Linked DNA regions of Homo sapiens: region 1 is linked to region 2. The links come from fine-mapping of genetic effects on gene expression. A gene starts in region 2. The other region holds a variant in brackets. All regions are shown on one strand. Distances are from middle to middle.

The links.
Region 1: its variant is fine-mapped to the expression of DNAJC21 in whole blood (INTERVAL, PIP 0.98).

The regions. Positions count from the first base shown.
Region 1 is chr5:34,963,683-34,966,593 of GRCh38, forward strand. No RefSeq gene overlaps it. Among named protein-coding and RNA genes, the nearest start is that of DNAJC21, 36 kb to the left of the region's middle. The variant G/A (reference allele first, on the strand shown) is at 1,478.
Region 2 is chr5:34,928,072-34,930,982 of GRCh38, forward strand. It overlaps DNAJC21 (DnaJ heat shock protein family (Hsp40) member C21), which reads left to right and starts at 1,488. Exons shown (of 12, transcript NM_001012339.3): 1 at 1,488-1,845. The coding sequence starts at 1,749. It overlaps LOC124900961 (a long non-coding RNA gene), which reads right to left and starts at 1,610. Exons shown (of 2, transcript XR_007058731.1): 1 at 1,578-1,610; 2 at 1-1,062. RefSeq lists silencers at 1,164-1,633, 1,644-1,713, 1,744-1,943 and enhancers at 1,972-2,617, 2,084-2,253.

The DNA.
Region 1 (2,911 bases), 36 kb after region 2:
ACAAGATGAATTTTTTTCCTTGCACATTAATGTGAATGGTCTGTTGCTGCAGGCTTCATCTTCAAACTACCTTGTCCTTTCTTAAAATGAATTATCCATTTATAAACTGCTAATTTTGTTGGGGCATTGTCCCCATAAACTTTTTGTAAAACATGAATGATTTTATCATCTTCCACCCAAGCTTTACCGTAAATTTGATGCTTGTTCTTCCTTCAATTTTAGCAGAATTTATATAGCTCTGATAGGCTCTCTTTTCAAACTGATGTCTTATCCTTCTTAGTGCCTCAAACTAGATCCTGTTCTGCTATGTTACAGTAAGTTAGTACAAGTTTTAGTGCAAAAAATTTTGACATCCATGTATAGTTTCCTCACGATATACATTTTTTCATGAATTTTGATTACCCCTTGTGTGGTCTCTTCTGGAAAATGTTCTATTTGTTGATGAGAAAAATGTATATTCTGCAGTTGTTGGGTGAAATGTTCTGTAAATGTTTGTTAGGTTGTTAGATTCATTTGGTCTATAGTAAAGGTTTGTGTGTGTGCTTTTTTTGTTTGTTTGTTTTTTGTTTTGTTTTCTTTTTTGAGACAGGGTCTTACTCTATCACCCAGGCTGAATTGCAGTGGTGCATTCATAGCTCATTGCAGCCTCAACCTCTCAGGCCCAAGTGATCCTCCCACCTCAGCCTCCTGAGTAGCTGGGAACACAGGCATGCACCACCATGCTTGGCTAATTTTACTTTTTGTAGATAAAGGGCCTCCCTGTGTTGCCCAGGTTGGTCTTCAATTCCTGGGCTCAAGTAATTTGCCCTCCTTGGCCTCCCAAAGTGTTGTGATTACAGGTGTGAGCCACCATGCCCAGCCTCTAGTGAAGATTAAGTCCATTTTTGTTGCTAATTTTCTGTCTTGATGATCTTTCAAGTGCTGAAAGTGAGGTGTTGGCTTCTCCAACTATTATTATATTAGAGTCTATATTTTTAGCACTAATAATATTTGTTATATATATTTGGGTGCTTTGGTGTTGGTGCATATATATTTACAATATTATATCCCCTTGCTGAATTGACCCCTTTATCATTATATAATGATATGTGATCATTGATGATCATTGTATATATTATTATATGACATATATAATAATATAACCTTCTTTCTTTTTTTGTTTTTATTTTTTTACTTAAATTCTATATATATTTCTTTTCTTTGTTGAAACAGGGTCTCAGTCTGTTGCCTAGGCTAGAGTGGAGTGGCATGATCATGGCTCACTGCAGCCTTGATTTCCTGGGCCCAAGCAATCTTCCCACCTCAGCCTACTCAGTAGGTGGGACCACAGGCATGTGACACCATGCCTAGCTAGTTTTCTTATTTTTTGTGGAGATGGGATTTCCCTATGTTGCCCAGGCTGGTCTCCAACTCCTGAACTCAAGCAGTCCTCCTGCCTTGGCCTCCTAAATTATTGGGATTATAAGCATGAGCCACT[G/A]CATCCAGCCTTATATTTTCTAATAAAAGTATAGCTCCTCCTGCGTGTTTTTGGTTTCCATTTGTGTGGAATATTTGTTCCATCCCTTCAGTCTATGTGTGTCCTTACAAGTGAAATGAGTTTCTTGTAGGCAGCTTATAGTTAGATCTTGTTTGGTTTGGTTTGGTTTGATTTGATTTTTTTTTTTTGAGACTGAGTCTTGCTCTCTCGCCCAGGCTGGAGTGCAGTAGCGCAATCTAGGTTCACTGCAACCTCTGTCTCCAAGGTTAAAGTGATTCTCATGCCTCAGCCTCCTGAGTAGCTGGGATTACAGATCTGCACCCCCACATATGGATAATTTTGGTATTTTTAGTACAGACAGTGTTTCACTATGTTGGCCAGGCTGGTTTCGAACTCCTGACCTCAAATGATCCATCCGCCTCAGCCTCCAAAAATGCTGGGATTACAGGTGTGAGCCACTGCATCTTGCTGGGAATTGTTTTATTAATTCATTCAGCCAGTCTGTATCTTTTAATTGGGGAATTTAAGCCATTTACATTCAAGGTTGCTATCGACAGGTGAGGACTTACTCCTGACATTTTGTTGATTGTTTTCTGATTGGTGTATTCTTTGTTCTCTTCTTCCTCTTTTATTGTTTACCTTTACAGTTGGTGGATTTCTGTAGTGAATATGTTTGAGTCCTCTTTCTTCCTCATTTTCTTTCTCATCTGTTCTCTCAGTGAGCTTTATACTTTCATGTGTTTTCGCGATAGAAAATGTCCTTTTGCTTCCAAATGTAGGACTTCCTTAAGCATTTCTTTTAAGATCTGTAGTGGTGATAAATTCCCTCAGTTTTTGCTTGTCTGGGAAAGACTATTTCTCCTTCATTTTTGAAGAATAGCTTTTCTAGGGATAGTATTCTTGGTTGGCAGGGTTTTTTTTCTCTTTCATTTGAATATAGTGTCCCATTGTCTCCTAACCTATAAGGTTTCAGCTGAGAAATACACTGTTAGTCTGATGGAAATTCCCTTATATCTGACTTATGTGACTTGATGCTTTTCTCTAGTGGTTTTCGGAGTTCTCTCTTCATCTTTGATTTTTGACAGTTTGATTATAGCATGCATTGGAAAAACATCTTTTTGGATTGAACCTACTTAGAGATCTTTGAGCTTCCTGTATCTGGATGTCTATATTTCTTGCAAGACTTGAGATGTTTTCAGCTATTATTTCATTAAATAGGTTTTCTATGACTTTGTCCATCTCTTCTTCTGGAACTCCTAAAACTTGAATATTTTTATGATTTATAGTATTCCGATATATCACATAGGCTTCATTCTTTTCTCTCTCTTGTTCTCTTTTTTTTTTTTGTCTGAATGAGTTATTTTAAAAGATCTCTTATCAAGTCCAATTTTTTTTCTGTTTGATCTAGTCTATTATTGAAGCTCTTGATTTTAT
Region 2 (2,911 bases):
ATTTATATCCAGCATAGTTACCTTTAATTATACAATGTTACAGGCAAAAATCCTTCTTACTTCAGAAGGTAAAAGAAGTAAGTGATTCCTACAGGCTGTATCCAAAACCAAATCAAGTTGGAGGGAGAAAATACTCCAAATTAAGTTGGAGGGAAAAAAATACTTTCCCTTTCCGTTTTTTTTTTTTTTTTTGTCCCTCCCTTCCCCCCGCCCACCATCCCAATTCTGTTCTCAGGAGGGGAAAGGTTTCATTCTCCCCCAAACTCAGACTTCTCAATCCTTATCCATTACCAATTTACCAACTAACTGAGACTGTGTAGAATCTTCCTCTGGAAAAAAGGGAAGTGTATGAATTCTGAGTAGTGAGTTGGTTGGTCAGTGGCGTGTGAAGTAACCTGATGAAGCTTAGCGTGGGTTTTTTATTTTACTGGGGGCAGCATATTGGGGAAGAGAAGGATAACCTTACTAAACCGCTTGGGTACGCCAACCCTGTGCAATAGATATTAGCAACATAGCTAACCATACATGGTTAGTAAATACAACCCACACCTAACTGATGCATGTAAACATTCCACATTACAGTGAAATATATTGGTGTATTAATGCATTTTAATAATTATGGTATTATTTTGATACCTTTCAAAGTGTTTGGAATAATTGTGCAGATAGTCAGATCAACCAAAACCTACCAGTTAAATACTATCCTTTAACTGCTTTCTTAACCTAAACCAATCTTGGAAAGGTAGGATTAGAGGCCAGAAAGTTAGGATTAAAGTGTGTTGGATGGATAGATCAGCACAATTTCATCCATGTTGGTGGTAAGGCTTTTCATTAAGTGTGTTGATGCTTCCCTTTTAAATTGTTTCCGCTTAAATAATCTAACTGTCCTTTCTCAAGCATATTGGTCAAGATGATCAATACCAGATATCTTAAGTGGCAGCTGAAGAGAATTAAAGAGATTAAAAAAAAAACCTGATATTCAGTCCAACCGAATTCTGCTACTGTATTAGCTGAGGAGGCTTGAGCCAACCACTTGACCACTTGGAGTCTGAATCGCCTTATCTATAAAAACGGGGATCCATTGAGAAATTATAATCAGATATTTTCCAGAATCCTCTCCCATCCCAGCTCCTATCTCCCCCTTCAGCCCTCAGGTCGGCTGCCACTCACACTGACCGCCATCTGTGCCCCTCACAATGACACCAGCGTGGCCCTGCCTCCCTTCCGCGCGGCCCCGCCTCTCGCCCCGCCGAGGCCCCGCCTCTCACACCAAGGTCCCGCCTTCCTCCTGTTCTTCCCGGCCAAGGCCTACCTTCCTCCCACGCGGCCCGCCTCTTTCCCCGCCAAGCTCCCGCCTTTCTCCTGCGCGGCCCGCCTCTCTCCTCGCCAAGGCCCCGCCTTCCTTCCTCGGGGCCTCGCCTCTCACCCCGCCGAGGCCCCACCCCCTCCCGCGCGGCCCTTTCCGGCACAGAGCCCACCCCTAGCCCATGCGAAGCGGCGGCCGCCGGCACCGCCCCCGCCGCGCTCCCGCTTGCCGCAGCCTGCGTCGTCTGCCGCCACCGCGCGCCTTCACTGACCTACACCACCGCCGCCGCCGCCGCCGCCGCCGGGCTCGCTGGCTGGCCCGGTGCGGGCGGCGGACTCCCGCCGGAGAGGACTGCCAGCGCCGCCGCCGCCGCCGCTTCGGCCCGGGCCCGGGCCCCGACCCCGTCCCGGGCCCCAGCGCCGGCCGCCCGCCCGGTCGGGCGATGAAGTGTCACTATGAGGCGCTGGGGGTGCGGCGCGACGCCAGCGAGGAGGAGCTCAAGAAGGCCTATCGGAAGCTGGCCCTGAAATGGCACCCGGGTAAGTACCTGTCCCGCAGCCCCCGCGGCCACTCGGAGAAGCCCGGCCCTCCCCGACCTTCCCTTCCCCCGGGCGGACTCCGCGGAGCCAGCAGAGAGGGACCTGGCGGCCTAGGAGCTCCTTGCCCCGCCCGGCCAGTGCCCGGAGCCGCCCTGCCCGTCTCGGTGGGCGAAGCGCTCTGCCCTGGCGCACCCCGGCTCACACCCCATCTCCTCATACCCGCGACCCCGGCCCCGCATCGCCACTGTAGGGGGAAAACTGCAGTCCAACAACCTCACTTGCTCCCGCTACCGGGTCGCAGACACCACGAGGGAGCAGTCGGGAACTCGGAACTCAGACCTGCCCCAGGCTTGCTTTTCCCTGCGTCCCTTGCAGCGCAGCCTCTCGGTGTTTTTCCTCCGCTGCCCTCCACCTCGTCCGGGAATCCCAGATACTTCAACCTGATGTATGGCTCTTTTCGTTTCTTAGTTAAGAAGTTAAGACACGGGAGCTAGTAAAATATCTTTTCAATAGGGATGCGCTTTTTTCGCTGTTTTTTTTTTCTTTTAATAAGCTGTTTAAGCAGACCTTGTACTTCACTTTGGACATGATTCTGCCGGGGAAGGTTTTAATCAGGCGGCTTCCCCAGTAAAGTTTGTATGTTTACTTAGAAGTATCCTTCCTTTGGATGTTTCATTGGTCTGTAATCCAGGCCTGTGTGACTTTTATGAAGTAATCTGATCTTCCAGGCTGGGAAACTAAGAGAGTAGTTGACTTTCAGCTTTTTGAGGTTCATATGAAGAGGCTTTCATATTAGCATTCATCAGTAAACACGGTTACAGAGTATCCAATATATGCAAGTCACTGCACTCTACTAAGTAGATTTGGAAATGCTGAGACAGGGGTCTTAGAGTCTTGTTAGGAAAACAACTTTCTGCCTTACACAAATGAAAAGTTAAATACAACTGCCAGAAAAAAATCGCAACATACATAATTGGTGGTTAGATTAATGGAACAACTAATATATGCTCCAGGAATTCAGGGAGGGAGTTACCATTTTGTATTGAGTCTTCCCCTTCTCAGAGGA